Homo sapiens: one gene and its partner. The protein of the gene in region 1 purifies or fractionates together with the protein of each later gene. This does not show direct contact. Each region holds a gene or a part of one and is shown on either strand. Other genes may lie near its edges.

Region 1 (3,824 bases):
TGCAAACAGTCAGTGCTCAAGTAATACACGTGGGGAAAGGGCATTTCAACACTCTGACAGGTCATCAGAGTTTCTTTTGCAAAATTCACAGAGATGTTGACTTTTTTTTTTTTTTTTTTTTTTGAGACAGAATTTTGCTCTTGTTGCCCAGGCTGGAGTGCAATGGCGTGATCTTGGCTCACTGCAACCTCCACCTTCCGGGTTCAAGCAATTCTCCTGCCTCAGCCTTCCAAGGAGCTGGGAGTATAGGCATGCACCACCATGCCCGGCTAATTTTGTGTTTTTAGTAGAGACGGGGTTTCTCCATGTTGGTCAGGCTGGTCTCGAGCTCCCAACCTCAGGTGATCTGCCTGCCTTGGCCTCCCAAAGTGCTGGGATTACAGGCATGAGCCACCGTGCCCAGCTGACTTTCAAACGAAAGTTCACTTTACCATCAAACTCAAAATGTAGAGATATATTCAATCGTGTGTTTAGTACAGCTTGTAAATTCCCATTCAAAGGGTACACTGTAAATAGAATGCAGGCTCATAACAAGTATTTTTCAGCTCTTAGGATGGTTGAGAGACTGTACTCAGAAAATCTGACAATGAACTCAGAAAGAACAACTTCTTGTCAGAAAATTTCAACAGTAAACTTCAAAATTACATGGCTGAGGCCACGAGGCAATGTTAAAAGTAACACTGTTAAATGCAATTGCAATGTTAAGGCAACTCTAAATAGATAAATAACATTTGCTTTGGGACAACTTTGTATCACTGTTGATTTCATGCAAAAAATAAATAAACATGTTCCAGATGAATTTCTGTAAGAAAAATGGAAATGTAATGTGCATGTTTACCTCTATTATTTTGTCCCAGACGGGACGGTGACCCACAGCGTCCCAGAGAGTGGCATGCTTGTCATGCCCACAGGTCAAGAACTGAGATTTTGAGGCATGGATGGCCAGTCCCCAGAGCTCATCAGTGTGACCCTACAAATAACCAAGACAAACAGAAGCGCTCTGAGATACTACAGTTCGCACTCAGGAGCCGTAAGGGATGACGAACCGAGGCTTCATGCTGACTTCATAACTGCTCTCAACAGTTTCTCTCCTCCCATCTTTCAGCAGCCACAGACACTCTGGGGTGGAGGAAGGTTATCGTAGTATAAAGCACCTGATTGTAATGCTTGATTAGGGTCTGATATAATGCAAAATGAGAGTGTTTGCCGGGCCTGCTGAGTGGGATCGTACCTGAGTAATGGGTGTGAAGTCCCCTGACAGAGTGCCCTGCAGGACAAAGTTTCGAGTTGTGCCAATCAAGATCACATCGCCTTTCCCCTCGGCCACTGTCCGTATTGGACCAAACTGTTCTGGAATCTGCATTGAAAAGTCATATGAAAAGAAAAGATGTACAATTTCATTCAGTTGTTAGCTCAGTCATTCAAAACACTTATCATAATGATAGTCCCTATAACAGTTTTATATACACATATGTATATAATGTACGTTCAAATATATATGTTGTATATACATATATATGGAGAGTTTCACATAGATACCACAGCTGGCCAGGCTTGGTGGCTCATGCCTGTAATCCCAGCACGTTGGGAGGCTGAAGCAGGTGGATCACCTGAGGTCAGGAGTTGGAGACCAGCCTGGGCAACATGATGAAACCCCGTCTCTACTAAAAATACAAAAATTAGCTGGGCATGGTGGTGGGTGGCTGTAATCCCAGCTACTTGGGAGGCTGAGGCAGGAGAATCACTTGAACCCAGGAGGTGGAGGCTGCAGTGAGCCGAGATCACGCCACTACACTCCAGCCTGGGTGACAAGAGTGAAACTCCATCTCAAAAAAACAGATACCACAGCCAACTGTTGAGTGAGTGATCAAAACCCTAAGCCTTATTTTTAAACTACAAACATTTTATATATCTTAGAAGCATCAGCAAGAATGAGGTTAAGAAAAAGCATTTTCCTCAACAAAATTTAAAAATAAGGAATGCTACTGGTTAGTTTTCTCTTTACTTTTTACAATTTCTGATAGCAACAGTAGATACAATTCAGAAAGTAAAGAATATAGGCCAGGTGTGGTAGCTCACATCTGTAATCCCAGCACTTTGGGGGGCCGAGGTAGGTGGATTGCTTGAGCCCAGGAGTTCTAGACCAGCCTGGGCAATATAGCAAGACTCCATTTCTACCAAAAATACAAAAAAAATTAGCTGGGTATGGTGGTGCGTGTAGTAGCTGGAAAGCTACTCAAGAGGCTGAGGTGGGAGAATTACTTGAGCCTGGGAGGCAGAGGCTGAAGATCACGCCACTGCACTCCAGCCTGGGTGACAGAGCCAGACCCTGTCTGAAAATAATAATAATTAATAATAATAATAATAATAACACTGCCATAATACAACTTAAAATGGTAAGTTCTTTGGCAATGTCATTCTGTTCAGTTTAAAAATCGACATAAACATATGGAATAATCTAAATGTTAAGAGAAAGAATTGCAAAATACACCCATTAAGAACAATTTGCTATGATGAAGAAACAAAGTTCTTGTACTATAAAAAGAACAAATGCTGCAGCTTGACCCTGGCGGTTGCTGTTAGGCTCTCCCGTTCCAGGAAAGAAGCAGCCTCCCCTCACACATTCTCCAGTGTGGCATGTTAGCACAGATTTGAGTCAAGTTGATGATGACCCATGCTAATGAGGAAGAATCAGATACTAACAAACAGTGAATAGCTTTTATGAAATTAGATGGGGCTTTGGAGCTTTCTTTACAGTTATAATATGACTTGGGCATGTCTATGACTCTAGCAATTCACAATATGTTCAACCAAATGCTGGTCAAATCTTATTATTAAAAATGTTCTCACAACAGAATCTCCAGGCAAGGGGAAGTGATTTCCAAAGCTCAGATGAAGATCTTCCTTTATTAAGGGAAATAATCAACAGAACCAAATTTTCACACTGCCAGAGGGTGGTGCCATGTTGCTCTCTGATGTAAAATATAAGTGTTTTGTGTGTATCTGGGTTCAAAGTCCTAAAGTCTGTCCATTCTAAGCTAGGGATGAAAAGCATCACCCTTCAGAATGAGGCCAATTTTGCAGTGTCTGCTCACGATTTCCTGGAACCTGGGGGAGAAAATTCACTGAGTGGGCAGAAGGAATATTAAATATCTTGCCTCTGGTGCCTACCGGAATGCAGGGCTGCCAAGTAGATAATGGGGAGGTACACCGGGTATCAAAAGGAGTCACAGCCCTAGGGAGCACATTGGCACTTAGCTGAGGGCCATGTACGAAGTAGATACTCAACAAATACTAGTTCACTCAATGCAATAATGTCTCCAAAATAACATGCTAGAAATTAAAAATTAAAAGAGGCTGGGCGTGGTGGCTCATGCTTGTAATCCAGCACTTTGGGAGGCTGAGGTGGGAGGATCGCTTGAGCTCAGGAGTTCCAAACCAGCCTGGGCAACATCTCTACAAAATTACAAAAATTAGCCAGGTGTGGTGGTGTGTGTCTAAAGTCGCAGCTACTTGGGAGGCTGAGGTGGGAGGATCACTTGAGCCCAGGAGGGGGAGGTTGCAGTAAACTGTGATCACACCACTGCACTCCAGCCTGGGTGAGAGCCAGACCCTGCTCTAAAAAAAAAAAGAAAGAAAGAAAAAAAGAAAAAGAAAAAGTTAAAAGAGAAGACAGATTTTTATAATAAATCAAAATGTGGGTAACAGTCCCTTGGAAAATTGAGAATAAAAATATTCTAAATATGAAGTGTGTTACAACCTCAAGTTTTATAAACCTAATTCTATTTTATTAGTTATATTTAACCTGCCTCAGGATTTTAATA
Region 2 (3,824 bases), about 25 Mb from region 1:
CTCCCTGTCTAATAAGACTAAACTTGCTAGTGATTTGAGGAGCGTGAACAGAGGAAGCAGCATGCTGTTCTGTCTGCACCTTTAGCCTCAGCTTTCAGCAGTGTTGCAGCCAGCCTCACTGACACTTCCTTGGAGCGCCCCAGCTCACTGAATAGCCTGTGTAGAATAAGCGTGTTGGAGTGACACACCAGAAACTCCAGCCTGTGTTCTTTGAGTTTGCCTTTGCATCACTGTTTCTCTGATGAAGGGGTGGCAGTTTTTTCACAGGTAGGCTGTGATATGTTGTTAACCACAACTGTCTTGCCCACTAGAGGGTGCTGAAGTCATGAGAGAGGGAAAACTATAGCAAAAAGAAGGGAATTTGGGAGGAAGCAAATACTGCAAACAGACTAATGAGATTCTTTCTCATATACATAGGAGCTGGAAAATGCAGAATTTATCCCCATGCCTGACAGCCCATCTCCTCTCAGTGCAGCGTTTTCAGAATCTGAGAAAGATACCCTGCCCTATGAAGAGCTGCAAGGACTCAAAGTGGCCTCTGAAGCTCCTTTGGAACACAAACCCCAAGTAGAAGCCTCGGTAACTGAGCTTTTTGCCTTTGAATCACAACTAGGTAAACAGTCACTGCAAGCTCTGCCTGGTTCTTCTGGCCTCGCTCTAGCTTTTGGGTTTCAGCTGCCCTGCATCAACTCATTATACTGTCTATTCAGCAGTACTTAAAGCCTCAACCCAAGACTAAACTGAGTTGCCTCAGAAAGGTATTTACCCTTCCACATTTCTGACAGGCTAACACCTTTCTAAAGGGATTGTCTTTTCCCTCTGCCTCAGAAATACCAAAATTCAAATTCAGTTTTTCATGACACTGGCAGGGTAGGTTAGAGGCTCTAAATATAAGAAAGAAGTAATACTGGTAGTCTAGTGAGGAAGCAACACATGTACACCTAACCTTGGTAAAAATGACATTGTGGTAAATACCTCAGTAAAACTATAATCCAAGGTCATGAAACTTTTTCTATAAAAGGCTACATAATTATTTTAGACTTTTCCTATTAAAGGCCACATAGTAATTATTTTAGACCATTTTAGACAGAAATGTGTACAGCCTCTTTTGCAACTACTCAACTCTGACATTGTAGCACAAAAAGCAGCTTCAAGTAATACATAATGAATGGGCATCCTTGTGTTCCAATAAAATTGTATTTACAAAAACAGGCAGTGGGCCAGAATTGGCCTATGGGCTATTTGTTGAACCCTCCTATAAAAAAAGTACAGTAGAAAAGAGAAAAATCCAGACTAGGATCATCAGAAAGCTTCCCAGAAGAGGTAATAATACCTTTGAAACTTCAAGGTGAATGTTTTAATTTCTCTGTCAGTTCACCTTCTTAAATTGTGTTGGTGGTCCTGTTTACTGACCACCTCTCAGATCTTTTCTAAAGTGTGATTCACTGCATATCATGAATATTGACCCTTTGGGTCTGTGATCTGAAAGACTTGTTCCAAACCAAATCATGCTTTTCCCTACTTCAGCATTTTAAATGAGAAGATACCAAGGTGCTTTAAAATTTTTCACAAAGTCCTCCAAAATAGATGATTGGTCTCCCACCTTGGCCTAATGGGGACTGAGGCAGAGAGTTCACTTTCCATGTTATGTCAGTGCCCATCGCTGTTATAATCCTAGCATTTCTGTTTCTCGTACATATATTCATGTGTATATATGATTTATCTTGTTAATTTAAAAGTAAAATCCGATTGCACTTAGAGGAAGTTTGGATTGAGGAGCTATGACACCTGGGCAGAACCTCCTGCAATCTCCTTCTTGTCTCTCTAGTCACCTCGGCTGAATCCTGCAGTAACCTGTGCTGGGAAGGGAACACCACTGACTCCTCCTGCGTGTGCGTGCAGCTCTCTGCAGGTGGAGGTTGAGAGATTGCAGGGTCTGGTGTTAAAGTGTCTGGCTGAACAACAGAAGCTACAGCAAGAAAACCTCCAGATTTTTACCCAACTGCAGAAGTTGAACAAGAAATTAGAAGGAGGGCAGCAGGTGAGAGCATTAAAAGAATAATCCAATTTCTAAGCCTGTTTTGAAGAATCACAGAAACAAAACACAAAGTACTGAAATAGACTTGTTCCTTTGCAGGTCCTTACTTTTTTTTTGAGACGGAGTCTCGCTCTGTTGCCAGGCCAGAGTGCAGTGGTGCTATCTTGGCTTACTGCAACCTCCGCCTCCCGGATTCAAGCAATTCTCCTGCCTCAGCCTCCCGAGTAGCTGGGACTACAGGTGTGCACCACCATGCCCGGCTAATTTTGGTATTTTTAGTAGAGACAGGGTTTCACCGTGTTGGCCAGGATGGTCTCGATCACTTGACTTCATGATCCACCCGCCTCAGCCTCCCAAAGTGCTGGGATTACAGGTGTGAGCCACCACGCCTGGCCGATCCTTAGTTTTTAATGATACCATTTTTGTAATTATAATCCCAGAAGCCTTGGGCCTTGTTCAGGCACCTAGATTGAATCATTTTCATCACTTGCATTGCTTTTTCTTAGTGTATGTTTTTTCTTTTACAATACTTAATTACATACCTCTGAAAATAGACATTCTCCTGAACAACCACAATACTATAACCACACCTAAAAAAATTAATACTAGTATTGTCAATTCTCATCTAGTATCCAGCTGATACCTCAATTTTCCCAGTTTTCCCCCACAAAAATGTCCTTTATAACCATTTTTTATCAGACTAGAATCCAGTCAAGAATCCCACATTATATGTATGTCTCATTTCTTTTCATCTAAAACAGCTCCCTCCACCACCATCACCTTTTTTAAATTATTTTATTTTTATTTTTATTTTTATTTTTATTTTTATTTTTTGAGACAGTCTCACTCTGTTGCCCAGGCTGGAGTGCAGTGGCGTGATCTCGGCTTACTGCAACCTCCACCGCCCGGGTTCAAGTGATTCTTCTGCCTCAGCCTCCCGAGTAGCTGGGACTATAGACGCTTACCACCATGCCCAGCCAATTTTTGTATTTTTAGTAGAGATGGGATTTCACCATATTGGCCAGGCTGGTGTCAAACTCCTGACCTCGTGATCCACCTGCCTCGGCCTCCCAGAGTGCTAGGATTACAGGTGTGAGCCACTGCGCCAGGCCTTATTTATGTATTTATTTTGAGACAGGGTCTTGCATTGTCACCAAGGCTGGAGTGCAGTGGCACAAACATGGATCACTGCAGCCTTGACTTCCTAAGCTCAAGTGATTCTCTGACCTCAGCCCCCCAAGTAGCTGGAACTACAGGCATGTTCCACCATGCTCTGCTTCACCTTTTAAAAAAATACTTTTATGACATTGACTTGTTGAAGAAACCAGGGCAGTTGTTCAACAGAATGTCCCACATTCTAGATTTGTCTTGTTTTCTCAGGGTGTTGTCTAACTTGTTTTTCTGTCACCCTGTCTTTTCTGAAAACTGGAAGTTTAACCTAAGGCTTGATTAGATTCACATTAAACATTTTTAGTGAAAATACTTCAAAGGTGATGCTGCTTGCATTATTTTTCGAGAGCCATGCTATTGTTTTATATAGAGGGAAGTAGAAGCAGAGAAATAGGGTTAGGCCCTTGGCTTTGCCATTTGCCAGCTGTAGGTGTTTGGGCTACTTTGTTTTCTCTGAGCCCTGGTTTCTCACCTGAAAGAAAATAATAGACACCTTGTATGGTTCTTTGGAGGATTAAATGAACTAATGTTTATGAAATTACTTTAGAAAATAATATACAGGCTGAGCACGGTGGCTCACACCTGTAATCCCAGCACTTTGGGAGATTGCTTGAGC

What was found.
Region 2: the proteins of EML1 (region 1) and NEK9 purify together in Homo sapiens (affinity purification with mass spectrometry; one large-scale study listed by BioGRID and IntAct). This does not show direct contact.

What each region holds. Positions count from the first base shown.
Region 1 is NC_000014.9:99,911,712-99,915,535, reverse strand, and holds part of EML1 (echinoderm microtubule-associated protein-like 1), read right to left. Parts: intron 1,358-3,824; coding exon 1,232-1,357; intron 971-1,231; coding exon 839-970; intron 1-838. UniProt on the Homo sapiens protein: Modulates the assembly and organization of the microtubule cytoskeleton, and probably plays a role in regulating the orientation of the mitotic spindle and the orientation of the plane of cell division.
Region 2 is NC_000014.9:75,085,235-75,089,058, reverse strand, and holds part of NEK9 (serine/threonine-protein kinase Nek9), read left to right. Parts: intron 1-417; coding exon 418-579; intron 580-1,828; coding exon 1,829-2,041; intron 2,042-3,824.